2 separate regions of the Homo sapiens genome follow, and region 2 is linked to region 1. Evidence: fine-mapped expression QTL. Tissue or cell type: whole blood. Region 1 holds a variant in brackets; the other region holds the start of a gene. All regions are shown on one strand. Distances are between the middles of the regions.

Evidence for each region.
Region 2: UCHL1 starts here. The variant in region 1 is fine-mapped to the expression of UCHL1 in whole blood (TOPMed, PIP above 0.99).

What each region holds. Positions count from the first base shown.
Region 1 is chr4:41,218,675-41,234,734 of GRCh38, reverse strand. It overlaps UCHL1-DT (UCHL1 divergent transcript), which reads left to right. Exons shown (of 3, transcript NR_102709.1): 2 at 13,251-13,398; 3 at 14,387-14,661. Among named protein-coding and RNA genes, the nearest start is that of APBB2, 12 kb to the right of the region's middle. The variant A/G (reference allele first, on the strand shown) is at 9,418.
Region 2 is chr4:41,246,328-41,260,848 of GRCh38, reverse strand. It overlaps UCHL1 (ubiquitin C-terminal hydrolase L1), which reads right to left and starts at 3,921. Exons shown (of 9, transcript NM_004181.5): 1 at 3,840-3,921; 2 at 3,723-3,734; 3 at 3,112-3,240; 4 at 52-202. The coding sequence starts at 3,872. It overlaps UCHL1-DT (UCHL1 divergent transcript), which reads left to right and starts at 4,122. Exons shown (of 3, transcript NR_102709.1): 1 at 4,122-4,290. RefSeq lists an enhancer at 2,711-3,211 and a silencer at 3,046-3,805.

The DNA of each region.
Region 1 (16,060 bases):
TAAACAGAAACCGCCCCTTTTGAAAGACTTGCACCACCACTGACATCAACTAACCACCTGACACTGCTGCGTTCCCCTCCCTTTTTGGAGTTTCAACACAACAGCTGATCAGCATTCCTTCCTAATAAGAGACCATTGACAATGGACTGATTCTGGTCAGTTCGCAGAGGCTGTGCACAAGATGCCCTTGTGTCCTCTGTTTCACCTTTGATCTATACAGCCTAATTTTAATGCATTTAAATGTTAAGCCTCCACCCTAAAGTGAACATGGGACATGTGTAGTAACATGCATGTTTACTTACTATGCATGCACACATTCACCCCATCATAAATATTCATAACTCCTCCTATAACCTATTAAATATATACACTTAGACAAACCATTTGGCATAAATTCCAGTCTCATTATTCCCTCCCTCAAAGTGCCTGCTTCCAGTTTCTGCCCAAGGCTACACTGCCCAGCCTGCAGATGGCCAGTGTGCAGATTGCAACCCTTTATTTTTTTATTTTATTTATTTATTTTTGAGATGGAGTCTCCCTCTGTTGCCCAGGCTGGAGTGCAGTGGTGCAATCTTGGCTCACTGCAATCTCCACCTCCTGGGTTCAAGCGATTCTCCTGCCTCAGCCTCCCCGAGTAGCTGGGACTACAGGCTCGCGCCACCATGTCCAGCTAAATTTTTTTTGTATTTTTAGTAGAGACGAGGTTTCACCATGTTGGCCAGGCTGGTCTTGAACTCTTGACCTCAGGTGATCCGCCCGCCTCGGCCTCCCAAAGTGCTGGAATTATAGGCGTGAGCCACTGCACCTGGCCACAACCCTTTATAAGAAATAAAGCTCTCCTCTCCAAATTTTTGAACCTTATGATTCTTCAGTTGACAACACATACTCTGAGTTCCTGGCAAGCCCCCACACTTATTTAACTTTGAGACTTCGTAGCTGCTGTTCTGTTTATGCTGCCTGAACCAACCAAAGACTGTAACCTGCAGCTACCAATCAGAACTCAGCAAGCCTCAACCAAGCAGAACTAAGCAAGTTTGCATCCATCGTTTGCATAAGTAGACCAGAGTGGTAGCCTGCGCAAGAACTCTATAAAACACAAGCACTTTCTTTGTTCTGTCTGAACACACCTTCATTTTATATCAAAGCCTGTGTATCTCTGGTTTGCAAACCATTTGCTAGAATAAAGTCTCTTTCCTTTTTCTCGAAAGAAAACACTTTTGAGTGGATTTGTTGACACTTTTTATTTTTATAACATCTATCTCTTCATTAATAACCTCTATTTAGTGAGACTTTGCTCTAATACTTTTTTTAGTTCTTTAGAAATCAACTCCTTTTGTTCTTGGACCATATTTAAGATAGCTGACTTAAAGTCTTTGTCTACTAAGTCTAACATCTGGAATTCTGGGACAGTTTCTACTGATTACTTTCCCCCATCATGTATGAGCTATACGTTCTTGTTTCTCTTTATGTCTCTTAATTTTTTGCTGAACACTGGACATTTGTTTTTTTCCCAGTTTTTGGCTGTTATGAATAATGTTGCTATGAACATTCATGTACAAGTTTTTGTGTGGACATATGTTTTCATTTCTTTAGGATATATTTCTAGTAGATGAATTGCTGGATCATATGGTAACTCTATGTTTAACTTTCTGAGGAACTGCCAAACTGTTTTCCAAAGTGCTACACCATTTTGCATTTCACTAGCAGTGTATGAGGGTTCCGATTTCTCCACATTCTCACCAACACGTTATTTTTCTTCGGATTTCATCCATCCTTATGGGTGTGAAGTGGTACATCATTGTGGTTTTGATGTATATTTCTCTGATGGATAATGATGGTGAGAATATTTTCTTGTGCTCATTGGCCACTTGTGTATCTTCCTAGGATATAACCTTTTGAATCCACTCTACTCATAGTGCCCTTGATATAACTACCCTTTGTTTTAAGAGCATGTTTTTCATTCTCTTCTTACTTGAGTGATAAGCATCATTCTCTCCTATAAACACTTTCTTCACTTGGCTTTCCAAACAGCCTACGCTCCTTCCTCCTTGATCGCACTCCTTTTCTGTCACCTTTACTGCTTCCTCCTCAACTCCAGGATCTAGCCATTAGGGGGCCTCCATGACTCAGTTGTTGAGCCTCTTCTGCTGTCTATTTATACTCATGCCCTTGAAGACCACATCCAACTCATGGCTTTAAATATCGTCTTTATGCTGGAGACTCCCATATTTATATCTCCAGCTGGACCTCCCCTTGGATCTCAGGTCCACTGCCTACTCCAGCGATGTTTAATACCTAACTTCTCCTCAAAATGGAAGTTCCCCACCGAAGCTGCCCTTTACAAATTCTTCCTTTCTCAGAAAATGTCAGCTTCATCAAACTTCTAATTGCTCAGGCCAAAAACTGTAGTGTCATCCCTGAGTCCTCTTTCTCTCACATCCCAAATTCAATCTGTCAGTAAATCCTGGCAATTCTCCCTTCAAATATATCAGGAATTCTTAGCCCTAAGAAAATCATGAGACAGTCATTAAAAATAGTTTGTGGGTCAGGCATGATGGCTCACATCTGTAATCCCAGCACTTTGGGAGGCCGAGGTGGGTGGATCACTTGAGCCCAGGAGTTTGAGACCAGCCTGGGCAACATGGCAAAAACCCGTAACTACAAAAAAATACAAAAATTAGCCAGGCGTGGTGGTGCACGCCTGTAGTCCCAACTACTTGGGAGGCTGAAGTGGGAGGATAGTTTGAGCCCATGAGGTCAAGGCTGTGGTGAGCTGTGTTCAGGCCACTGCATTTCAGCCTGGATGACAGAATGAGACCCTGTCTCAAATAATAATAATAATAATAATGAAAAAAGGAAAAAATAGTTTGCAGACATCTTAGGTAAACCATGGAGTTGAGAAGTAGCATGCAAGTCCTATGTAAAGTGTGATTCCAACAATGCAAAATATGCCTCTAATGAAGATTTGAAAAAAACCCACAGAAATAATATCCTAAATAAGCTGCAGAGGTATTTTCATATTATCCCATATTTTTCTTTGAAAATATTTATCAAGCTACAAAACGCAAAGGAGATTTCAGAGTTCACGGAGGTTTATGAAGTAGAATACCATTTTAAATAGCCCTGTGACATAAATGAAGCTGGGGTTGTGGGGGTGGGGACTCATTTCTGGAGGCCTACTTGTGCCATGCACTGCACTAATTGTTTTTCACATACTATCTCATTGAATTCTCTGACCCTTTTTAAGAAAGGTGTGATTGACATGCAATAAATGTTTTAAATGTTTAATGTGTGATTTGATCAATTTTGACAGATGTATATACCTGTGAAACTATCACCAAATTAGGATCATGGACATATCCACCACCTCAAGTTTCCTTGCCCCTTTGTAATTCTTTCCACCCACCCTTTCTGCTTCCCAGGTCCCCAAATAACCATTGATCTGCTTACTGTCACTGTAGATTAGTTTGCATTTTCTGGAGTTTTATGTAAATTGAATAATACATTATGTATTATTTTTTGGCCTTCCTTCTTCCAAATAATTTTTTTTAAGAGATGGGGGTCTTGCTATGTTGACCAGGCTGGTCGTAACTCCTGGGCTTAGGTGAGCCTGCCACCTCCACCTCCCAAAGTGCTGGGATTACAGGCATGAGCCACTGCGCCTGGCCCCAAATAATTTTTGATGTCTTCTTCACATCTTATGGTTGAAGAAATAGATTCATAGAAGTCACGTAACTTTCCTAAAATGATATAGTAATAAGAGATGGACCTGGAATTCCAACCCAGTGCCACCTGTCACTTCAATGTGTTGAAAGTGAAGCCCTGAGTGGTTAAATGAATTGTCAAAGGTTATAATGCCAGCAAGTAGCCAAAGTAGGACAGAACCCACTATGCCACATGCCTCTTCGTTATTTATGTGGCTATTGGAAAGAGCATATGACTCATTTTACGTTTCACTAATACTGCATTTTCAGAAGTCTCAACTTTGACAATGACCTCAGGCAGAAGATCCAATGTGGTATGTTTTGGCAAAAGTTTCCTTCAACAATTTCTTTCAACTTGTCAGAATAGAGAAATCTACTTTTTTAGAAATTGCCTTTGATTTCCCTTCAATTATTGTCCTCTTTAGAAATATACTTGAAATTAGGTTAAAGGAAACCATTGGCTGGTTGGGCTTTTTTCCACTTCAGTTTTCTCTTTTGCAGTGAATTATCATCACCTTTGTTACCACCGCTTTATATTTTAGGTGGCCTAGATTGTCAAGGTAATGCATGAAATTGCAGCAAAAGAATTTGGTTTGTGATTTTCTAAAACTGCCACATTGTTACAGCTTGATTTCTAATGAATGTATTTATTAGGCTTATATTTAAGAGATCATATAAGTTTTATCCTAAACACTAGTTTAGTATCTGCAAAGTTTGATTAGTGGGTTGGGAGTTGTTTACATACTGAAAAACAAGTTTAAAAAAATAGAAAGGGCCGGGCACAGTGGCTCACGCCTGTAATCCCAGTACTTTGGGTGGCCGAGGTGGGTGGATCACGAGGTCAGGAGATCGAGACCATCCTGGCTAACATGGTGAAACAGTGTCTCTACTAAAAATACAAAAAATTAGCCGGGCGTGGTGGCGGGTGCCTGTAGTCCCAGCTACTTGGGAGGCTGAGGCAGGAGAATGGCGTGAACCCGGGAGGCGGAGCTTGCAGTGAGCTGAGATTGTGCCACTGCACTCCAGCCTGGGCAACAGAGCGAGACTCCGTCTCAAAAAAATAAATAAATAAAAATTTAAAAAAATAAAAAAATAAAAAATAGAAAGATATAAAATAATTTATAAGCAATAAAATGAGAGCCTTAAAAAGTATTGAAATTATGGAATGCTTATCAGAAAGGCAGGGGAAAGACTTTCCCACTGTTTTCAATCATCTTCTTTAAAAAATGATTTTAATTTTGTGCAACTACTGTTCTCTATGCATGTCAAGTGTCAGAAACCACATATTTCAACAAAGTTCCTGAATATTGTGGATAACTAACATATGTAAAATAATGCTCTATATCTATTGGGGCAGAGTATTTAAGGAGATGAAATGGCATTAGCTCCCATGCCACAAAAGCAAACTAGAATACTGTGGGGAAATATGTCAGTATGAACATTAATTGATACATAAGCCAGATTTACGAGAGTATAAATCAGCCCTGGGTGCGGTGGCTCATGTCTGTAATTCCAGCACTTTGGGAGGCCGAGGTGGAAGAATCGCTCGAGGCCAGGAGTTTGAGACCAGCCTGGGTAACATAGTGAGAACCTGTTTCTACAAAAATAAAACAAAATTAGCCTGGCATGGTGGGGCATGCCTGTAGTCCTAGCTACGCTGGAGGCTGAGGCAGGAGGATCACTGGAGCCCAGGAGTTCAAGGCTGCAGTGAGCTGTGATCACGCCAGTGTACCCCAGCCTGGGTGACAGAGTGAGACCCTGTTTCAAAAAAGAAAGAAAGAAAGGTGGGGGAAAGAGAGAAATAGAGAGAAAGAAAAAACATTTAAGTCAGAAAGGAATAGAAATCATCTTTAGAGTCTGGCTCTATAAGCCTCCTATTCCCAGATGTACGCCCAGCAACACAGCAGAGTAAGAACAAAGTACTAAACATTAAAAAAAAATAATGCTATTGATGAGGCATAGCCAGCCTTAATCTTTTCTCCTAAAAGTTTCCAAATTATAGATTTGAGCTTGTATTTATGAGACACTGAAACAACATTGGAATTTTTTTAGAGGAAAATGAACTGTGTACATGGAACCTAGAAAATTAATAAAGACATAAAAAAATACAACCTTTATAAAGAGATTCTTTATGACCTCTGTACTCATGAAACCTGCTTGTTCAGAGCTCTAATATTGTCAAACTTATCTTTTATTTATTTGTTCATATGTTTCTCTATTTTTATGTAGCATACCAGGCCAAAGAGGTTATACACAGGGCAACATTTATATAGGTTATAAGAGAGAAATATATACGTTGAAAGCAGCCATCACCGACTCTGCTCACCAAGCTCTTCCATCAAACTTTCCCACTAAACTACCCCTTACAGCAGAAGAACCTTGACCTCTGGAGGCCTTCAAGTGCCTGCCTCAGAAAAAATGTGTCTTTTGAGATAGATAGTTGGATGGATGGATGGACGGATGGACGGATGGACAGACGGACGGACAGACAGACAGACAGGCAGGCAGACAGATAGATGTAGTAAAGAAGGAAGTCAAAGTTTACTATTAAAACATCCAGTTGAAAAACATGAAATCAAGAGAACAAAAGTATAAAAATGAACATTAGGATAAGAGGTAGGAAATGAGATGTTCTAATTCAAGCATTGATTTTAGCTGTTTTTGACTTCAGTGACATTTTATTTTAGAGATAACAAGTTCCTGGATCTCTCTATTTTTGTATGTCCTACATTCTATTAGCACAAAATGGAGAAGACACAAAATGTGGAAAGAGATGAAGATACTCACATATTTTTCCAGTTGCCTTAGGAAAGTTATTGTACCTCTCTGAATTTCATTTTTCCCATATGGAAAATATGAATACTCACAGTACCCACCTCACAGAATGCCTCTGGGATTAAGTGAATTCATATATGCACAACGTTTAGCAAATAGGAAGCCCTCAAGCATGTTAGTTACTACACGGGAAAGTACAAAAGCCTATCATAGGTTCGTTTCATGGAACTATGAAGGCCCAGGCTTGCTCCAGGTTTTCTCCTTTTCTTGCTTGGCCTGCGGGATGGAGCCTGTCTTCCTCTCTGGTTCAAAGCAGCCATCACAAAGTCTGCTCATCCAGCTTTCCCATTGTGCTTTCCCTCTAACCTACCCCTTACAGCAGAACTTTGAGCTCCAGAGGTCCCCAGTTGCCTGCCTCCGGAGAAATGTGCCTTTTGACATCTTGTGTTTCATCTAAAAAACTTTTGCCCACTTTTTAGTCTACTTCATTATATATGTGTGTGTATGTGTGTGTGTGTATTTTTGTCTTTGTTTTTGTTTTTGAGACGGAGTCTCGCTGTATTACCCAGGCTGGAGTACAGTGGCGCGATCTTGGCTCACTGAAACCTTTGCCTCCCGGGTTCAAGCTATTCTCCTGCCTCAACCTCCTGAGTAGCTGGGATTACAGGCGCCCGCCGCCATGCCCAGCTAATTTTTGTATGTTTAGTAGAGACGGGGTTTCACCATGTTGGCCAGGGTATTGAACTCCTGACCTCAGGTGATCCGCCTGCCCTGGCCTCCTAAAGTGCTGGGATTACAGGCGTGAGCCACCGTGCCTGGTCTATATATATGTTCTAATATCAAGTATTTTCTCCAAATTTCCTAACACATTTGTCACTCCAGGAGGATGTAGGTTTATCCTGTGATTTCCAATAATTCCTAGAATGTGTTGTATGTTCCCATGGTATAAAGAACTCAGTTTAAGAAAGAGAGACTGACTCCCAGTTCTTAGGATCTGTTTAGTCAGGAAGAATCAAGGAAGGCAGGTCTTTTGTCTCAAGCAGGAATTTAACCACTCTGAGGACCTAGAGCCACTGTGGAAAGGGGCCCTGCAAGAGGGTAATTCAGCTCAGACAGAAAAGAGAGGCAGGACATGGAGCTGGAGAAAGATCCAGTTCTGATGATATCACCTTGATCCTCTAGTCCTCGTCATCACCAGCCTCTTATATTCTTCTTATAAGAATACCAGCCATGGCCGGGCCCAGTGGCTCACGCCTATAATTCCAGCACTTTGGGAGGCCAAGGCAGGCGGATCACGAGGTCAGGAGTTCGAGGCCAGCCTGACCAATATGGTGAAACCCCGTCTCTACTAAAAATACAAAAACATTAGTGGGTGTGGTGGTGCGTGCCTGTAATCCCAGCTACTCGGGGGGCTGAGGCAGGAGAATAGCTTGAACCTGGGAGGCAGAGGTTGCGGTGAGCCGAGATCACGTCATTGCACTGCAGCCTGGGCAACAGAGCAAGATTCCGTCTCAAAAAAAAAAAAAAAAAAAAAAGAATACCAGCCGTATTGGATTAGGGAATACTCCTGGACTCTTGAGTTGCATTTTCTCTTTTGCTCTGGCCTGCTCTAGCCCTATGCCTTGAGGTGCCCTAATATGGCGGGTCATCGCCAACCTCAATTTAAAAAAATGAGAATTACTTTGTAAACATAGATTATTGTATGAACTATGTACCTATGTTCTCAAATGCAGTGATGGAACATTAATTATATATACATTTTTTTCCAGCTTGGCTTACTTTTTACATTTTTTTATTTTTTAACATTGTGGTAAAATACATGTAACAAAATTGACTATCTTTTTTTTCCTTTTTTTCTTGAAGCGGAGTCTCGCTCTGTCACCCAGGCTGAAGTGCAGTGGCGCAATCTCGGCTCACTGCAAGCTCCGCCTCCCAGGTTCACGCCATTCTCCTGCCTTAGCCTCCTGAGTAGCTGGGAGTACAGGAGCCCGCCAGCACACCCAGCTAATTTGTTTGTATTTTTAGTAGAGACGGGGTTTCACCGTGTTAGCCAGGATGGTCTTCATCTCCTGACCTCGTCGTGATCTGCCCGCCTCGGCCTCCCAGAGTGCTGGGATTACAGGCATGAGCCACCGCACCCGGCCTAAAATTGACTATCTTAATCATTTTTAAGTGTACAGTTCAGCAGCATTAAGTACATTCCTATTGTGCAACCATCAACATCATCCATCTCCAGAACTCTTTTCACCTTGCAAAACTGAAATTCTGTATCCATAAAACAGTAACTCCCTATTCCCCCCTTCCCCCAAGCTCCTGGCAATAGGATTAGTTATATTTGAAATATAGAAGATTGTCTGAGGCCAATACCTATGGGGAGATTGTACTCCAAAACTTGAGACATGTATTGTGCCTCTTGTTATTGCAATCACATTTGAAGGATCCATTTATCAGATTTCGTGTTCGTTCTACATATTTTCACAAAATCAATACTGAAATAAGTTGGAGGTAAAGTCACTTTTTGGACCTAGGGAGTTTTTAAAGTGCAGTCAATATGTCATCACAGAAAAAGAAAGTAACATTTTGCAAGAATTATTTGGACTTCATTATTTTGTCTTTGACACCTCTGACTGTCTCTAAAGTTTATAGATATTAGTTTAGGTTAATGAACATTTTCCTGGCTGGGCGAGGCGGCTCACGCCTGTAATCCCAGCACTTGGGGAGGTGGAGTCAGGTGGATCACCTGAGCTCAGGAGTTCGAGACTAGCCTGGCCAACATGGTGTAACCCCGTCTCTACTAAAAATACAAAAATTAGCTTGGCATGGTGGTGGATGCCTGTGATCCCAGCTACTCGGGAGGCTGAGGCAGGAGAATCGCCTGAACCCAGGTGGCAGAGGTTGCAGTGAGCTGATATTGCATCATTGCACTCCAGCCTGGGCA[A/G]CAAGAGTGAAACACTGTCTTAAAAAAAATTTCCTGTATAATTTTTAACTATTTATAAAGGTATTTATTTGGAATGAATAGTGTATTAGTTTCCTAGGGCTGCCATAACAAAGCACACAAAACGAAAGTCTATTCCCTTGCAGTTCTGGATGCTAGAAGTTTGAAATAAAAATGAATGTCAGCAGGTTGGTTCCTACTGAGGGCTCTGAGGTCATGTCTATTCCATGCCTCTCTCTTAGCTTCTTTTGACAGCCAGCAATCTTTAGTGTCCCTTGGCTTATAAATGGATCGCTCTAATCTTTGCCTCCATTTTCCTGGGGGCATTCTTCCTGTGTCTTCACGTAGTTGTCTTCTTATAAGACTACCAGCCATATTGGATTGGGGCCCACCCTATCCAGTATGATCATATCTTAACTAATTTACATCTGTCTGGCCTTGTTATGAAATAAGGTCTCATTCTGAGATACTAGCTTAGGACAACAACATATCTTTTTGGGTGGATGCAATTCAACCCAAAACAGTCAGCCAGGATGAGCCTGATTAATGGCTTGTGTCTTTTATAATACTCTGATAGTTTAACTATTTTTGGACTAACAGGCCAAATAGCACAATAACCAACTCATTGCCTACTACTTACTAGGTATGCAAATATGTTTGTTAAATGAATGTTGCTACCAAACAGTTTAGGAATAACAAAAGAGAAGAATCTCTTTCAAAAAAAAATTAATACCAATAAAATTCTAAAGATTTTTCATCAAAATTGATATTGGAAGTATAAATTCTATGTGGAAAAGATATTATGAAAGAAGAGCTAAGTCAGTTTTGATAAACCAGGACAGAGAAGAGAGACCCACACTACCAGATATCAAGATATATTACAAAGGTATAGAAACAAAAATAGTGCAATATTACCACCCTAATAGAAGAAGTAGTCTATGAAAGGGAATAGAGAGCATAGGAACAGACCAATGAGAATTGGACATATAATAGAGGTGACATTATAAATAAGTAGCGATGGAAAGATTGTTTGATACGTTGCATTAGAACAGTTGGCTTTCTGCTTGCAAAGTTATATCCCTGTTTCACAGTGTATTAGAAAACAAATTAAAGTTTAAATGTGAGAACGAAACAAAATAAAATACACAAAACTTGTAACCTGTCAGACTGTAATAGGGAAAAATATTTTTATGACCTGAAGTAAAAAAAATTTTAAAAATTTAGAATATTTTTTCTAGTCATATTTTGAGTCATGAAAAAAATAACACATTAAAATTTGTAGAAACAGCTTTGAAATATATATATAAGACTTTAGATATTAAATATATATATATAATATATATATGAGGAGAAAGAGATCTATCCCCTGCCTCACCTAGTATTTCCTCTTCCTCTCCTCTTTCCCTAAGTGTTCTCTTAGAAAATTCAGACTCTAGGCAAAACTTTTTCTAGTACATTTTTAATTTTGCTCTTTTTATGACAACAAATAACATAAATAACATGCATACGATATTGTACCTAATGTTCTCAGAACTGTTATCTGATACAAACTTTAACATAATTTCAACAGAACTAAGTGTTTTTCTATTAGTGATAACTTTCTAGAGAGGATATGAAGCTATTTTACCTTTTACAAAAAGGTAAAAACTGGTAGAATATTAGCCTGCTCCACTTTTCCTGTACCCTATTCCTTCACTTCTTGGAAACTTTATTCCAAGAATTTTGCCAGTGCATGATGGAAGAAAATATATGGTGATTTGTCATGTTTACTAATGCTATAACTTTGATTTTTAAACTTTTATTGTCTAAATAAGAGTTAAATTATTACTTGCAAAGCCATTGACTTGGAAACCATTTTCATGAGAAATCATATCTCATTTGATTAAAATAAAGACAGAAAATTCAACCTCAAGGAAAGCTCATTTGTCTTCTACAAATAGCATTTCAGCGAGTCAAAGAAATTAGAGGTGGAAAAATCAATTAGAGCTAATCTACCAGCTTGTCAGAAAAGATTGCTTTCTACGAAATATATTCTAGCTCTTTGTCCAGGTTAATTCTAAAAGTCTCACGGGATGGAGCACTTGTTATATCCTTTTGAAGTTTTTCCTTTTATCTAATTGACCCTACCAAGAATCTTTTTTTTTTTTTTTTTTTTGCTAATATCTAACTTCCATATTAGCTACTAATTCTGTGCTATTACTTTTAATCATACCTCTTCCTATACTAATGTCCCTTCCCCACCAAGTTTGGTTTTTATGATCTCAGATATTTGTAAGGAGCTAGCTTTCTTTCATTTAACCTAATGACAAATGTTTGCTTGTTATAATAAGCTCTTAAAAGCAAAAGAAATCTTTAGATCTTTTTTCTCCATCTTCCTTTCTTTTCCTATTTTGCAGACCTTGTAATGAGGCACTTAAAAGTGAAGATACTGGCAGGAACAAATAGAGAAAGGAGACTATAAATCCCTTGCTTGATCAAGAAGACTATCAATGTCTTTGCAAATTAGCAATATATATTTTATCTATCTCTGGGATGAGCAAAGCATTTTCTCTTGTAAATGATTTCTAGTTATTTTTAAATGTCTTCTCTCTCAGTGTTCCTCATTTCAGATTCCCCATTCCTATTTAATTATGTTTATATGAATTTAAAATGGAGTATTTTTTCAGGTTGGATGGTGTAATTTATGTACCCTGTGAACATGAAGGTGATGGTTTTCCTCTATTCACAAGATTTAAATTCTTGCCCTTATCATGCAGACAATTACTTGTGAGGCACCCTGCACATTGGTGCTCTGGAGTCAAGTTTCTGCTGTTTGATGATAACCAAAAGAGGGATTCTAGGAGTGGTGAGAGATATCATATAACCAGGGAAGGAGATTGCCCTGGGCATAAGAACATAAATTCCTTGTAGCCGGAACCAGTTCAATAAAATGCCAGTGTCTGCACTAACAACTCCTGGTAACCTGGGGGAAGGGCAGAGACAAAGAGTGTGATGAATTTTATTGTGTGCTTTTGTGCTCATTTGAGTTTCTATGAATTTGTGTATAGAGCTGTCTATTACCATTGTTCAGGAATGATTGAATACGTGTTTATGAAATTTACTAAATATGTTTTTCAATATTAAAAATGTACAGAAACATTTAATTAGCTTTCTCTGCTTACCAAGACACTGTCAGCACTTTAAATAACAAAAAAAGATGTGGTAGAATTTTTCTAGAAAAAGGGCCCTGTACTACCTTTCACAGAGTCATAACATCTCTTTAGGTGAAAGCCTGTGCTCTGGAGCGAGACTGCCTTCTTCAGATTCTGCCTCTGTCCCTTAGCTGTGTGACCTTTGGAAAGTAATTTCACTCCCTTGGCCTCAGTTTCCTCTGTTATAAAAGAGTAATCAGCCTATCTGAGGAAAAACTATTATAAATTGAGACTAAATTGCGTTAACATTTGGATGGTTTTGTTTGTTTGTTTGTTTGTTTTTTGAGTCAGAGTCTCACTCTGTTATCCAGGCTGGAGTGCAGTGGTGTGATCTTGGCTCACTGCAGCCCCTGCCTCCTGAGTTCAAGCGATTCTGCTGCCTCAGCCTCCCTAGTAGCTGGCATTACAGGTGTGCACCACCATGCCTGGCTAATTTTTGTATTTTTAGTAGAGAAGGGGTTTTACCATGTTGCCCAGACTGGTCTCAAACTCTGTGAACTCAAGTGATCCACTGGCCTCAGCCTCCCAAAGTGCTGGGATTACAGGTGTGAGGCACTGTGCCCAGTGAGTTAATGTTTGTGAAGTGCTTAGTGCAGTGCCTTAAAAACTAATTTAATTTTTTTCTTCCTTTCATTCACTAAACAGATATTTATCAAGTGTCTTCTCTGTGATGTGGCTGAAGATAGGAATTTACAGCATGGCAACAAAGAATGATACAACATCTAACTGTACTATGTGTGAAGTGCTACAAAAACATATGGCAAGCTCTGGAATCAAGAAGTGAGGAGGCCAGGTGTGGTGGCTCATGCTTGTAACCCCACGACTTTGGGAGCCCAAGGTGGGAGGATTGCTTGAGCTCAGGAGTTCGAGTCCAGCCTAGGCAACATAGTGAGACCTCATCTCAACGAAAAATAAAAAAATTATCTGGGTGTGGTGGTGCACACTTGTGGTCCCAGCTACGAGGGAGGCTGAGCCAGGGAGGTCGGGGCCTCAGTGAGTCATGAACGTGCCACAGCACTCCAGCCTGGGTGACAGAGCGAGACTATTTCAGGCAAAAGGAACGGCATAAGCAAAGGCACCAAAGTTTGTAACTGCAAGATTTGTTGGCCTGTGTGTGACCAAATATAGGTAAAGATCGTGGGGTGGGTGAGTGGGAGAGGGGATAAGATGCTCTTCCTACTTCAGCTAAGTTGCAAAGGTTCAGGAACTGTGGCCACAGCAAGTGGCCCATGGGGTTGTGCCATTGGTGACACACTGTGCCGTGGTCTTGTCTGTTATTTGCCGCCAGTCCTCCATGGATCCCGACCCTTTTCTTAACCTGATTCTCCATCTTTGGGTTGAGACAGTGAGCTGCCTGACAACTCTCTCAGAAATTATTTTTTCTGGGTAAGTTAACCAGAATGAGTTCCTTTTGCTTGTAACCAAGAGATGTCTCATACAATAGAGAATGTAATCTCTTTGGCATGTCATCTGAATTTCCTAAATTTTAATCAATAAATAATGAAGTACTTCTGTAATAAAATACTTGTATTTAATATAAAAATCAAATGTAAATGTAAAACATAAAAATTTAATTGAAAATTATTTAAAATGTAAAAAAAAATTCACATTGAGACAAAAGGATAAGATGGATAATTAATAATAGTGGGAACAATTTGAAGATAATCTGTATTGAGTGCTTGCCTGTGGGCCAGATACATTGTTACGAGCTTCACGTGCAATATCTCACATGCTTGGTAACAACAATAAGATATTCATGCTATGATTATCATTGTTTTCAGATGAGGAAACTGAGGGGTGAAGAGTTTAAGTCGTCTGCCCAAAACTAGCAGTGGGAGAGTGATGCAGCCAGGATTTAAACCCAGGTAGCCCAAATACGGCATCTACAATCTATCTCAAATCTATGGCATCACAGATGAGCTGGTGTCCACCTTTCCCTGAAGGAGTTGAAGGAGCTTTTATAGAAGAAGTGATATCTGAACTGGACCTTAGAGAGTAAGTAAAATTCTGCCAGATAAAGAATATGTAAAAGTGTTAGTCCAGCCTGAGATTTGTGTGCAAGGGCAGAGTCGGGAAAGGCCACTACGTGCTTGCAGGAATGCCTCATGGGCATAAGTTGCTGGCGTGTGGGTGTAGTGGGGGTTGGGTAGAGGGAGAGGTATGAGCTGGGGACGGGGTGGCTGAAAAAAGAGGTTGGTAGTAGAGGAATCCAAATATATTTTTGAAATGGAATAAGGGTTGTTATATTTTTAATTTTCTTTTTATTACCAACCAAACAAGCAGCAGTGATGGAGTGATGGAGTTTGATTATGTGTCCTTCAGTTTAGTAGTTAAGATTTTATCTTTAAGCAACTGGAAGTCATCAGCGGTTTTAAAGGAGAAGAATGACATCATCAGCACCTTTTTTTAGAAGGATCACTCTGGCAGCGGTGTGAAGAAAGGGCTTGGATTGGGAGTGATGGGTGTCATCAAGGTTGGTTAGCAGGATTCTGAAATATGCATGAAAAGACAGTGAGGACAGTGGACAGTGAGGACAGAGAGGCAGGCCCACATTTGAGAGGCAGGCATTCCTGAGTTGGGAGCAAAAGGGCTTGGTGATTAATTTAATGCGGGTGGTTGAGGAGGAAGGAAGAATTGAAGATGACTGAGATTTCTAGTTTAGAAACCTGAGTAATTGGGGAATGTCATTAACTGAAATAGGAGTGGAAGGAAGGAAATCATCCTATGTGAGGCCTACCAGAAGCTTTACATATGTTATTTAATCTTAAATAAACCTATAATGAAAAAATTAACATGCCCATTTTGCAGATAAGAAAAGTGAGATTCAGTGAGGTAAAGTAGCTTGCCCAAGGTCACACAACTACTAAGAGCTGGAATGTGAAATAAGGTCTTACTCCAGTGCCCCTATTCTTTCCATGATAGTAGGGGACTTTATGCTTTGTACCTCTTTGTACCTTTCTACACTCTAATAATAATTTTAGTTTGGAAAAATAGGACTGAAGCTCAATGGGAAGGTAGACCATGGAAACATGGTCCTCCCAGGAATAGTGCAGTATGAAGAGAGATTAAAGGATTGCCCTAATGACATTAAGGCCCAGAGCAGCACTGTTGAATACAATTTTTTGCAGTGATGCAAATGCTTTTTACTTACATTATCCAATACAGTAGTCATTAGGCCATATGCTACTGAGCACTTGAAATGTGGCTAGTATGAAAGAGGAACCGAAGAGTTAATTCTAACTGATTTTAAGTGATTTCAGATTAAATAAGCATATGTGGCTAGTGACTGCCATATTGGATGGTTTAGGACTAGAGAAACCAGTCAGGCGTAGAGGGTTCATCAGAGAAGAGGCCTTGCTGGTACCCCTGAAAAATCACTCGATATTTGATCATCTGCCTCATACCTCTGGGTAATATTGGTCCTATATTTGGGGACCATAATTTATTAGCTAGCA
Region 2 (14,521 bases), 27 kb before region 1:
CCATGTTTCAAGTTCAAGCTTAGGATGGCTGGCCTCAAAACCCACACCTACCAAATCCCAGTTTGTCTTGATTATTGGCCACTGCGTGAATAAGTCCGATTGTGCCACAGGAATTCCCAATGGTCTGCTTCATGAAGTACACTTTAGGACTAACTTCTTGTCCCTTCAGCTCTTCAATCTGCTTTTTCCTGAAGTTCTCATGCTGCGAATGTAAAAAGCGTTTTTACATCTCAGAATGAAAGTGCAAAGAACAGATGGCAGCACATGAGTTCTACCAACTAAATGGAAACACCAGTGGGATGTGTGACCAGAACCCCTGGTTCTAGATGTTGGCTGACTCCCAGAGAAGGGCCCGTCTGTCTGCCTCCCACACCACCCACGCCAGCCAGTGGGGCTCTGAGAGGTTCGGAGACTCCACCCTGGTGCTGCAGTGCAGTGACTGCCTTGGATACTGCCCAAGGCTGTGTCTAGACACCACTGCAACCTTTCAGCCCAAAATGGTGTCACGAAGTCAGAAAACAAAGAAACCAATTCATTATTTTCTCCCTTTAACACTTAACAACTATTTCACATAGGCATCCTAAATCAAGCTTCAGTCAATTGAATGCCCAACAAGAGCACCAGCTGGTTTACATTTCATTATTCTTTAAAGTTCTACTTCTACTCGGCTTAAGTACACTTCGCTTCAAAAACAAAAACGGCCTTAACTGCTGAAAAGAACAAGTGAAAGAAATTAACCATTACCTCCGCCCTCTTTTTAAGGAAAAGACAACTGATCCAGGGTATTGGGCTGTGATTTTACAAGAGGAAGATGTGACACTAGCTTGTCCTTGCCAGCTAAACAGTTTACTTTGAGGACAGACTGGCAATTTGAGGAGGAGGATAGAGACTGGTAAATGAATCGGACTAGGAAACGGATTTCCTCAAAGCATCTGCTAGCTTTCTGTATAGTAATTTAGTAAGCCTATCTGGACTTTTCACTAACTAGCTTTAAAGACCTTAGAAGTTATGATTTCTTGAGCCAGGGTCAGTGGCTTGCACCTATAATCCCAGCTACTAGGGAGGCTGAGGCAGGAGGATCACTTGAGCTCAGAAGTTTGAGACCTTGTCTCTAAAAAATAAAAATATAATAAATAAGTTAGGACTTCCCAGTTAAAGAGTAGGGTACTAACACTATAGAAACACTGATTTCCCATAACGAGCAAAACCAGACAGACCATCAGAAACCTATTTCCAATTCTAGTAGCTTTGCATTTCTGTACATGAACTGAAGTTTAAGCTTGCTCTCTGGTACTAATAGAAGAGTAAGATCTCTTACCCCAGAAGATCAACTTAAACTCCAACTAGCAGAACTTTTTCGCTTCTATCTAACTGGATCCTCAACTTAGTATTCATTGACCAGTAAGTGTTTTTCATTTTCTAGGCTAATTAGATGAAATGTTAAAATGGGATAGCACCATCCTTTAGGGCTGCTTGAGCTCTTCCATGGAAATCATTCTGTAAATAGTCTACTAGCACTTAATGTTTCAGAAGTGGTCCATGTAGGGGGTCATAACATTCCCTTAGTCAAAAATTAAATGCCTTCCAAATTAACATTAGCATCTTTGGAGTCAACCTATAAAACCTCAACTTTTCTTTCAATCGGCTTCAGTGTTTTGTCCAGTAGGCATTCTGTGTAGCAGAATAGGCGCTCGATAAATCTGATAGGTTGAATTGAAACTAAAGGACAAAGTATCGAGCTCTTTCAAACATAACACAAACTAGAATGTTCTCTAAACAAGATTCAGCAAAAGGAGAACAGTCAGCTTTTAAAGGCAAACATGCTGCACCACTGCCTCCCAGAGGCCTTGCCTCTGAATGCTGCTCAAAACCTCCGAGTCATCATGGTTGCTCTAATAAAAAACCTCTGTGTGATGCTCAACTGGAGACAGGAGACTGATTTGGTCAACCAGGAAGCTAATTCGACTTCCAACAATTTGGCATCTTCCTTTTAGCCCAAGTAAAAGACTTTAGCAATAAAAACATGTCAGTGAGATCATCTTATTAGCTGTAAATAAGTGTTTTTACCCACAATACTTAGCTTACTTACTAGGAGGAAGGCTTGGAACTTCCCATACTCTTGATTTTGGCTACAGATGCTTCCAGAACACCTAGCCTTAGGACGGTGCTTCAGTTAACCTCACTCTTTAGAGTGATGCCCCAAGTTTTGCTAAAGCTAATTTCAGTCACTCCCACATCAGCGGTCAAGTGACAGCAATAGGAGATAAGACAATGCCATGCGCTAATGACTGGGATTCCATACATCACAAGACTGCAAATATCCTAGCTATCCTTTAAAAAAAAAAATCTGACGCTGTCTTTCAGATACATCTATCCATGCACACTTGTAGGAGGAAAATCATTTCAAGGGAAATGCAAAGGTGCTTTCAAAACTGAGCTAATAACCCCCTATTTCAGTTAGCTACAAGGTCAGAGATGAACAAGGATAAGTGAAGAGGAAGGAGGTTCCCACACAGAAACCATACACAAAATGATTAAGCTTTAAGAAATACATTCAAGAGGCTAAAAACCAAGTGTGCAAGTGGTGGGAGTGGAGAAGAGAGAAGAACCCCTTAAGACCATCAGAAACCCAAGTAATGGAGGCGGAGAATTAGCGAACCTAATTGTTTCCCTGCGATTTAGGTCAGCCCTTCCCCCTCCATTCTACAGCTAGGTGGGAGTCTGAGAAGCAAACAATGAGTTGACAGGTTATAGCCCTTAAAGGGAAACCAGCAGCCATTCCCCGGAACCGGAGGCTCGAAAAAGCCCAAGTTCGAGGGAACTCATGAGTAGGATGAATGATTTCCCTGGATAACGGGATAGATGGAACTGAGATACTGCCTCTCTTCCAAATTTAAGGCAATTGTGGACGGATGGGCAAGAAGGCGACAGGCACCGCTGGAACAGGAGCCCAGGGAGTAGGTACCACGAAAATGCAGGCTCCTCCCTTCCTTGTAGGCGCGCCCCGCATCACCTACAGGGGAGGGGGCGGGGCGGGGAGCCCCCGAGGACTCAAGCTGGGGAGCGGCGTGCACTGCCGGCGGCCGGCGCATCCTGGGCCCCACGCCCTACCTGGGCCGTGAGGGGAAACAGCAGCAGCAGCGCGCAGGCAGGCGCTGGCACCGAGCCCAGAGACTCCTCTTCCAGCCCCAGCACGTCCACGAAGCGCCACTGGCCGGCGACCCCCAGCCGGGACAGCACCTGCGGAGAGGAGACAAGGCGGCCAGGCGCACGGGGACACGCGGGTCGCGGGCACCTGCCAGGGGGCGGGGCCAGGAGGCGCGCGCCCTCCGCGCCCGCACCCGAGCCTGGGAGGAGCCCCAGTCCCGCCCTGCCACCCCCACCCGGGCCGGCGCAATGACACAGCACAAAGCGCGGCCCACACGTGGCGCCCGCGAAGCCCGTGCAGCCGAGTCTGTGCTGCCCGCGCCACGCCCTCGGGAGCTCCGCCTGGCGCTCGCTCGCCACGGGGCGCAGCCCCCTCCGTCTCCCCGTGACCGGTTTCGTAGAGTCACCCGCTAAATGCAGGGGCCCAGGAAAGGCGCCCAGCCCACGCCCCAGCCCGGCCGTCTCCGGTGCTCGCAGCGGGCGGCTTGGTCCCTGCCAGCAGCCGGAACCGGTGGGCGCCCCCGCCTCGGCGCTCGCGGGGGAGGGGGCCAGAGACGGCGCGAGACGCCACTCACTTTGTTCAGCATCTGAAAGGCAAATGCAAAGAAAAAGGCAAAACCGAACCGATCAGCGACTCGGCTCCCCCTCCCTCGGCCTCGCGCTCTCCGGGTAGCGGTGCACCTGGCGCTCACCTCGGGGTTGATCTCCATCGGCTTGAGCTGCATCTTCGCGGAGCGCCCGGCAGAAATAGCCTAGGGAAGACGAAAAACAGCTAGCGGAGCCGCCCAGGCTGCAGCTATAAAGCGCCGGCCAGACGCACTGTGAGGCCTGTGCAGGGGGAGCAGGGGCAGAACCAAGCGAGGGGGAAACGGACGGTCGCGGCCAGATGGGTACGAACCCCCCGTGCGCAGCGCGGAGTGGTACGGCCGGGCCCCCAAACCTTGCAGTCTCACTCGCCGGTGAGATAATCTGGTGGTTGTGGAGACGGGATTTGTTGGTGGGTGTTCCTTGAGTGTATGGAGCAGTCCTTTTGATGGAGTCTTTAATTTTGGGCGAAGTTTCTGGAAACCCATCCTTTCACCATCCCAATTACTCTAAAGCTCGAGTCTCTGAAGCATTTGAGAAAAAGCACAAATTCAACAGGTATATATTTAATACGAATGAATGTAAATGTGTGCCCCCCGCCCCAAATCTCTCAGCAGTTTGCGTTTAACCTTAGACAATTCCTCCTCCATGTTAAGTCAGACCAGTACCGAGGTTCGTTTTTAAGTGACTACCTAGAATAAAACAGAATCTGGTAGATAACAGATACTGCATTAGGAATGCTGATGTAATGTGACTCCCGCGGAAGAAATGGTTGGTCCTGGGAGAGCAGTAGAAAGCTGGGGGATGTGAGGGTAATACAAGACACAAAGAAGGCAGGCGATTGGAGACTTGAGAAAACAGATCCAGGGAAAAGATGGGTATGATTTTGAGCGAGAGGCTGTAAAAGGAAAAGCATTTTTAAAAGAATGGGAAGCTTTGAAAAATAAAATGTCTGAGTTCACCGCAGAATACTCCCAATGAAGAAGAAAGGGAATGGCAACCAAGGAAACCACTGTTCTCTAATGATCTCAGGTGATCTCTAATGATCTCTAGTCAAAAGATGGAGAGAGAAAGCATTTGCTGAAGAATGAATTTTAAAAGGGACCAAAATCTATAAGAATTGTGCCAGGAAAGCTAAGCTGCAGAACAAAGTGGGCTTGCAGAAATACTTAGGTAGCGAAGGAAGCAAGAAGGTTGAGTATTTTTTAAAAATAGGCACCGAAGAGAATAATGATGATGGTAAAAGAATAGACCTTCTATTTAGGAAGTTGAGGTTAACAGATGACAGAGGGAAGGGAGGGAATCAACATTTTTTGAGTTATTGTTTTTGGGGATCCTTTGCATGTGTCTCTCATTTAATCCTTAGAGGAGCCGTGAAGAGACTCATATTAGTGCAATTTTACAGATCAGAATCCCAGGCCTAGAGAAGTTAATTTGCTTACGGTCACAATTGAAAAGTAAAACTGAGAAGTAAACCCTGCTAAACTGGGCTCCAAGAGCCCATTCTTTATCTAAGATTCCACAACATTCTACTTCTATTTTCTTTCCATTTTTGCCATTAGAAAATGACCTTCACACACAAAAATGAGAGAGAAAAAAATTAGTAAGAGGAGCTTAATGGGTGAATCTTATGGTATGTAAATTTTCCCTCAATAAGGTTGTTAAAGAAAAAAAGAGGTGAAGGTCAAGACAAGTGACTAGGTTATATTGAATGAGTTCTTGCCTTTAGACAAAGACAAATTACATTTCCAATTTACTTCATTTATTCATTCACTCAACAAATATTAAGAACCTACTGTGTGCTGGGTGCCGAGCTTGGAAAGTTTGGAATTAGGCATACAAAGATGAACACAATAAACATGGAAATTTCCCTCATGCCGTTTTTTTGTTTGTTTGTTTTGTTTGTTTTGTTTTGAGACGGAGTCTCGCTCTGTCGCCCAAGCTGGAGTGCAGTGGCGCGATCTCGGCTCACTGCAAGCTCCGCCTCCCCGGTTCACGCCATTCTCCTGCCTCAGCCTCCGGAGTAGCTGGGACTACAGGCGCCCGCCACCACACCCGGCTAATTTTTTTTGTATTTTTAGTAGAGACGGGGTTTCACCGTGTTAGCCAGGATGGTCTCATCTGCTGACCTCGTGATCCGCCCGTCTCGGCCTCCCAAAGTGCTGGGATTACAGGCGTGAGCCACCGCGCCTGGCCCCCTCGTGCTGTTTTTATCAGTCATAAGAGTTGTATGAAAGGGAGCAGAGATCAGGAGCACCTAACCTAGTGGAGGGGATCAGGAAGGCGTCCTGAAGGAAGTGACATTTAAGCTAAGGGCTGATCGGCAAGCAGACGTTAGCAGTTATAAGTGATTGCCAAAATAACTAATAAAAGCAGTCATGAAATCACTGTCAGAAATATTTGTTGAAGGCATTAATTCATTCACATTCATATACATATATGGCCTACTGTTTGCCAGGAAGCATCAGAGCAGTGAATGAAACAACTCCCTGCTTACAAAGAGATGCCAGAGACTGGATATGAACAAACCTAAGCCTAATCTTTTTTAAAAAAAAAAAAAAGAAGAAGAAGAAGAAGTAGGGGGTGATTGGGAATATACTGCTGAAACTGCAGGCCAGAAGAGTTTATATCAGTCATTAGCCAAATGTTAGGACTCATAATTTTTTACTTTTAGAAACAATAAGATGGATGCATTTAGAACAAGTTATGCCAGCCAGAACTTATCTTCTTTTCTTTGGGGGTTATTAACTGGATGGACAGGTAGAACACTGTCATTGTATTTCTTATGCTGCCAGGGTTGGCATTGGTTGATACCACAGTTGAGGTGGTTTTATAGCTTATTTAATTGATTCTACCTTAAAAAAAAAAGTGGTACTGGATGGAGCTACCTCAACCTGTAGCCACCTGACAATGGTTTTAACCTTGTCTGGTGCCACTTTATTACAGCAGAGAAAAAGAGAGGTCGTGCATACAAGCAAGAACAAGCAGTCTAAATGGCAGAATTCTTAGCCAGGTGTGGTGGTGTGTACCTGCAGTCCCAGCTACTTGAGAGGCCAAAGTGGGAGGATTGCTTGAGCCCAGGAGTTCGAGGCTACAATGAGCTGTGATGGCATGACTGCATTCCAACCTGGGCAACAGAGTGAGACCCCATCTCTTAAAATAAATAAATACATAATAAATGGCAGAATTTTGGGATTAAAAAATAAGTTTAAAATAAAATGATGAAATTTAACAGGGATTTAGGTGACGATTACATAACCCTGTGAATATACTAAAAAACTAAAAAGTGGGTTTAGGTATCACAATAAAGCTATTAAAAATGTAACAGGAATATGTGTAAAGCTCTATATTATAGTAACAGTTGTCAATTATTGCCATACAGTTAATCTTTATATTAACTTTTTTCTTGATGCTATGATTGCAAAAGTATGAAATAATTTGGAAAATATCAAGTGAAAACAACACAATAGTTTGATTGTAACCTTTTAAAAATAAATACACAGAGATCAGAAGGAAAAACATTTTTTAAAAAAAATCATTTACAGATGCATTAATGAATTAGATCTGGCTTTGTGAACAGTACCTGAGAAAAAGATTCAAATATTTCAGGTGTCATAATTTGACTATAAAGCTAGTGCAATCTTTATTTATACCAGGAGTGAGAGATTCAATTTCATTTTAATCATAGGTTCCTGAAGGAGAGTCCTGAGTCCAGTAGGGGGAAAAATGCTGTGATTGATTAGTGATGTCTACCACGAGTATGGGAAAGGGAAGTGGTAAGGATAACCAGGTATTTGCTAACCTTTGGCTAGATTAATATAATATTCAAGATCTAATCCACTCACAGAATTGACCAGACTATAACTGGATTATGATGCCCAGCCTGGCATATAATGAACACTCAATAAATACTTTTCAACTGAAAATTCGAACTACCACACTTCAAAAGAGACATTGACATATTAGAGAGTTTTCAGAGACTGAGCGCCAAAATAATGAACAAAGGTGGTTGAAGAAATTGAGAAGACAGTATATGATGTGGAGAAGAGAAAGGGTTTGTGTGTGTGTTTGGGGGATGGGGAGGGGAGTTACATGATACCAAATGCTCAAAAATACAAAGAGGGCGAGAATAATCTTTATGATTATTTAAGAATACAGGACAGACAGGTAGAAGTCAGATGAAAATATTAGTTTATATAAGAAAGCACTTAATAATTAGAGTGGTTCAACATTTATGTAAATTCTTCACATGTAATGGTGAGCATGCTTTTAGCAGCATAATCATAGCTAACACTTACTGATTGCTTACGGATGCCAGGCACTACTTCTTTGTGTTTTCTGTGTATTAACTCTTTTAATCAACATAACAACCTATTAGGTAGGTTACTATTATTATTCTCATTTAGAAATGAAGATCAGAAAGGTTAAGTTCTTTGCCTATGGTTATTTAAGTCATGAGAACTGAAATTTGACCACAGACAGTCTGCACTCTTGACCACTGTACTATATTATACCAGGAGTCCTCAAGTCCCAGGCTGAGGACTGGTACAGGTCTGTGGCCTGTTAGGAACTGGGTGGCACAGCAAGAGGTGAGCGGCGGGTGAGCAAACATTACTGCCTGAGCTCCGCCTCCTGTCAGATCAGCAGCAGTATTAGATTCTCATAGGAGCATAAACCCTATTATGAACTGCACATGCGAGGGATCTAGGCTGTGTGCTTCTTATGAGAATCTAATGACTGATGATCTGAGGTGGAACAGTTTCATCCCGAAACCATTCCCACCCCCAGTCCGTGGAAAAATTGTCTTCCATGAAACTGGTCCCTGGGGCCAAAAAGGCTGGGGACCGCTGTATTATACTATGTCTACCAAGGGCAGAATACCCAACTAAAACTGACTGAAAGCTTAGGACATGAATTCCCTCTCTTAACTCAATGACTGGAGGTTGGTGGTTCTAGGGTTGTCCATGTGTCAACATAAATAACAGAGAAATGTTCTCTAAAAGAAAGTGATATTTATTCAGGAATAGGGCATTGCAATGGAAATACACATGCCATAGTAAACTGTGTGTATATTCAGGAAGATACAAGAAGACAAAGGTTTTTTAAGGACAAATGAGGAATATTACATAATTGTTTTGAAATAATTATCCTTGGCTACAAGGATCAATAACAAGGGTGACACCAGTCTGAGGCTGGACAAGCAGTTTCTAGGCACAAGTCCTTGCAGAAGGATTTTTTATGTAAGATCGTGATGGCCTTTGTACAAAGTTGTGGGTTTTGCAGTCTTTTGTGATAATTTTTGTTATCAGGCATTTATGCATGAGAATCATTCTCTTCCTGGCTTTTCCCAGCTCTATTTGTCAGAGGCTTTTTGTGGTTTGTTTGTTTTTTGTTTCTGTTTTTGTTTTTTGAAACAGGGTTTCGCTCTTGTTGCCCAGGCTGGAGTGCAGTGGTGCAGTCTTGGCTCACTGCCACCTCCGCCTCCCGGGTTCAAGCGATTCTCCTGCCTCAAGCCTCCCGAGTAGCTGGGATTATAGGCATGTGCCACCACGCCCGACTAATTTTTATTTTTAGTAGAGATGGGGTTTCACCATGTTGGTCAGGCTGGTCTCGAACTCCTGACCTCAGGTGATCCACCCTCCTCGGCCTCCCAAAGTGCTGGGATTACAGATGTGAGCCACGGCGACTGGTCTTGTTTTTGTTTTGAAACAGGGTCTTGCTGTGCCGCCTAGGCTAGAGTGCAGTGGCAGGATCATAGTGTACGACAGCCTTGAACTCTGGACTCAAGCTATCATCATGTGTCAGCGCCCTGAGTAGCTGGGTATGCAGGTGTGCACCACCACACCTGGATAAGTTTTTCTTTATCTTTTTTTTTTTTTTTTTTTTTTTGAGACAGAGTTTCGCTCTTGTTGCTAGGCTGGAGTGCAGTGGCGCGATCTCAGCTCACCGCAACCTCCCCTTCCCGGGTTCAAGCGATCCTCCTGCCTCAGCCTCCTGAGTAGCTGGGATTACGGGCATGTGCCACCACGCCCAGCTAATTTTGTATTTTTAGTAGAGACAGGGTTTCTCCATGTTGGTCAGGCTGGTCTCAAACTCCCAACCTCAGATGATCCACCCGCCTCGGCCTCCTAAAGTGCTGGGATTACAGGTGTGAGCCATCTCACCCAGCCTGTTTTTTTAACACAAGTGACTCCATTTTGATTCTGACAAAGTTCACACATGGCTCAATGATCTTATCAAGAATTTAGGGTTTTTCCGTCTTTCCAGTCCACTGTCTTTACGTTATTGTTGAAAGTGTCATCTATAATGGTTGTAAGGTACCTACAGAAGTTCTAAGAATCACATCCTCACACAAGGTCCAAAGGCAAGAAGGAAAATGATATTCTCTTTCACTCTTGCTGTTTCTCAAGTCTGAAGTTTTGCAGAAGCCCCACCCTCCTGAAGAATTCCTTTTAGGTAGCATTGGCCTGAATTTAATCACATATTCATGCACTAGTCAAAAGAGAGGCTGAGAAAGTAAATATGTAGCATTTTTAGACTCCGAGAAGTAAGGTGGGCTTTGCTACCAAGGAATAGGGTAGGGGCAAGGCTACTGGACAGGCAGCTACCAGTGTCTGCCACATCATACCTGGAACTTTTTAAAGACTTGATGAATATCTGTTAATGATGTGGTAGAAAGAACTTCTGCTGGAGGGGGATGGGCAGGAAGTTTGAAATCTTAAGAATACAAGACAAACAGAAATCAGAGGAAAATATTAATTTATATAAGAAAGCATGCTGGGCGCAGTGGTTCATGCCTGTAATCCCAGCACTTTGGGAGGCCGAGGCAGGTGGATCACCTGAGGTCAGGAGTTCAAGACCAGCCTGACCAACATGGTGAAATCCCATCTCTACTCAAAATATAAAAATTAGCCTGGCGTGGTGGCACGCGCCTGTAATCCCAGCTACTCAGGAGGCTGAGACAGGAGAATTGCTTAAACCTGGGAGGCAGAGGATGCAGTGAGCTGAGATCCCACCACTGCACTCCAGCCTGGGCAACAAAGTGAAACTCTGTAGGTAGGTAGGTAGGTAGGAAGGAAGGAAGGAAGGAAGGAAAAGTTAAAATTAGTGTGCTGACCAAGCTGGTGTGGGGGTGAGGGGGACCCCTAGAAAAGAACATACAAGAACGCCACAGACACCTCTGTTCTTGCCCAGAGTCCAGCATTTTTTTGGATGAATATATACTCCAAGATCCCTTTTTGCTTTAATATTCTGTGATTTTCCTCAGTAAGTAATTTTTTTTTTTTTTTGAGACAGATCTTGCTTTGTTGCCCAGGCTGGAGTGCAGCAGCGCAATGGGCTCACTGCAACTTCACTGCGCCTCCTGGGTTCAAGCAATTCTCCTGTTTCAGCTTCCTGAGTAGCTGGAACTACATGCGTGCGCCACCATGCCTGGCTAATTTTTGTATTTTTAGCCAGGCATGGCTGACCTCAGGTGATTCACCCACCTCAGCCTCCCAAAGTGCTGGGATTACAGGCGTGAGCCCCCATGCCCAGCCAAGTAATTTCTTTTCACTGATATTGAGATACCCACAAAGTACTGAGGAGAATATGGTTCTGTGTGTCTTCAAAGGAAAAAGAAGTAAAGATGCAATTTGGTGTGATGGTGAACATTATAGATGATTATTTAGAAGACCTTGATTCCAGTCTTCCTGACTCTGCCTCTAAAGAATGGTGTGATCTTTGGGTCCCAGTTTTCTTGTTTATAATCCTAAGCATTTTAGATTCCACTGAGTATGTATACAGGCAGAGAAACAAAATCAATGGATGAATATGTGTTTTTTGTTTTTTTTTGACGGAGCCTCACTCTGATGCCCAGGCTGGAGTGGCACGATCTCGGCTCACTGCAACCTCCACCTCCCAGGTTCAAGTGATTCTCTTGCCTCAGCCTCTTGAGTAGCTGGGATTACAGGCACCCGCCACCACGCCCGGCTAATTTTTGTATTTTGAGTAGAGATGGGGTTTCACCATGTTGACCAGGCTGATCTGGAACTCCTCACCTCAAGTGATCCACCCACCTCAGCCTTCCAAAGTGCTGGGATTACAGGTGTGAGCCACCATGCCCGGCCTGAATATGTTGCTCTTTCTAAAAAAAAGATTCTGATTCACCAGCAATAGAATTTTTTATCATAAGCATTATTTTTCTTACAATAATGAAGATTTGGGATGGACCCTTTAAAAACTACCTTCTGATGATTCTGATAACTAACAGACACTCATTGTTAAGTAGCTGAATCTGACCACGCGTAAGGATGTAGTTTGAGGCTGAGAAGTAATAGACGAATTTTCTGCTCTGTCAAACATTTGATGGGTTTCTATTCAAACATATTATCTTCTCAGGTAATTGGAACACTTTTTAACAGCTTATTGAGGTACATTTGACATACCATAAAATTCGCTCATTGTAAGTGTACAATTCAACGCTTTCTAGTAGAGTTATGCATTTGTACAACCATCACCACAATCAGGTTCTAAAACATTTCCATTACCCACAAAAGCTCCCTCTTGCCCTTTGCAGTCAATTTCCTCTCCCAGCCCAGCCAACTACTTATGTTTTCTTGTCTTTATAGATTTGCCTATCCTGGACGTTCCTGGACATTCACATACATGGAATCATGCAATACTTAGTCTTTCATGTCTAGCTTCTTTTACTTAGCATACTTTTGAGGTTCCTTCATGTTCTAGCATGTATCAGAGGTCAATTTCTCTTTATTGTTGGATGGTACTCCATTGTACAGATACATCGCATTTTGTTGTCCATTCAGTGGTTGATGGGTATTTGGGTTGCTTCTAGTTTTAGCTACTATGAATAACACTACCGTGAAGATTTGTGTATGTCTATATGTTGACAAATGTTTTCATTTCTTTTAGTTAAATACCTAGAAGTGGAAATGTTGGGTTGAATGGTAACTCTATGTTTAACCTTTTAAGACATTTTCAAACTGTTTTCCAAAGCAATTGTACTATTTTACATTCTCACTTGCAATGTATGAGAGTCGCAGTTTCTCCACATCTTTGCCACATCTGCTGTTGTCAATGTCTTTTTGACTAGAGCCTTTACTGTGGGTATGTGGTGGTATCACTGCACTTTTAATTTGCATTTCCCTGATGACAACTGATGTTGAGCATCTTTTCATGGTGCTTATTAGCCATGCAAGTGTCTTCTTTTGGTGAAATGTCTATTCAAATCTTTTGCCCATTTTTAGTGAGTTTTTCATCTTATTAATGGATTATAATGGTTCTTTATATATTCTGAATACTAGATCCTTATCAAATATTTGATTTACAAATACCATCTCCTGTTCTGTGACTTTAAATTTCTACTCAGTGTTTTTGAGTAGGTTTTTGTTTTGTTTTTTAGAGATAGGATCTCACTATTGTGCCCAGGCTGGCCTAAGGAGGCAGAGGTGGTAGGATGGCTTGAGATAAGAGTTCAAGGACACCTTGGGCAAAATATTGGTTCATGGCTATTGACTATTGTCACATGCCACCACCCCAAGCTGTACGTAGTGTTTTTTGAAGAACAAAAGTTTTTAATTTTGATGAAGTCCAATTTATCAGTTTTTCCTTTATGGGTCATCTAAGAAATCTTTGCCTAATCCAAGGTTACAAAGATTTTCTTTTATTTATTTTTTGTTAAGAAGTGTTAATGTTTTAGCTCTTACATTTAGGTCTGTGATGCATTTTGAGTTAATTTTTGTGTATGGAGTAAAGTAAGGGTTTAAATTCATTTTTTTGTATATGTGTATCTAATTGTCCTAGCATTGTTTGTTAAAAGGGTTATACTTTGTCCACTCATTTGCCTTGGCATCTTTGTCAAATATCTTTTGACTATAAATGTAATGATTTATTTCTGGTCTCTTAATTATGTTCCACAGAGTGATTTGTCTATCTTGATTACTATGTGCCTTGATTAATATGATTTTATAGTTAAGTTGTGAAATCAGGTAATGCAAGTTCTTCAACTTTGTTTTCTTTTTAAAATTGTTTTGGCTATTCTAAGTCCTTTGCATTTTCATATACATTTTTGGATCTGCAGACAGGCTTGTTAATTTCAATCCCCACCTCAAGAAAAGCCTTTCGGGGTTTTAATAGAGATTAGGTTGAATCTATATATTTATTTGGGTAGAATTGCCATCTTAACAATATTGAGTCTCCCTGGCCATGAACATGGACTGTCCTCCATTTATTTAGAGCTTTAAAAAATTATTTCAGTAATATTTTGTAGTTTTCAGTATAAAAGCCTTATACTTCTTTTGCTAAATTTATTTTTAGGTTTTTTTTCTTTTTGATGCCATTGTGAATTCTTTTTGATGCCATTGTGAATGAAATTGTTTTCTTCATTTCAGTATCACATTGCTCATAGCTAGTATGTAAAATACAATTGATTTTTATATTCCCGCAACCTAGCTAAACCCTTATTTTATTCTAGTCATTTTGTTGTTGGTTCTTTAGGATTTTCTACATAAAGGATCACTCCAGTGTGTAGCTGCCTTCTTCTCAGTTTGGGTCTTAAAAAAATGTCTCTTCTCAGTTTGGGTTTTAAAAAAATTCTTATTTTCCTGTGTTACCTGTCTTTCTAAGAATGACCCTATGTCTCGTAGCTGAGTTATCAGCCAGTGACTGGTGAGAGATTATGCTCAAACACCTTGAGCCTGCAAGGTTTCCATGCTTTGCTGTGGATTTGTGTTTGGTTTGGGGAGTGCATTCCAAGTTTGAAAAGTTTTCAAATCTGTCTTCACCTTTGCTT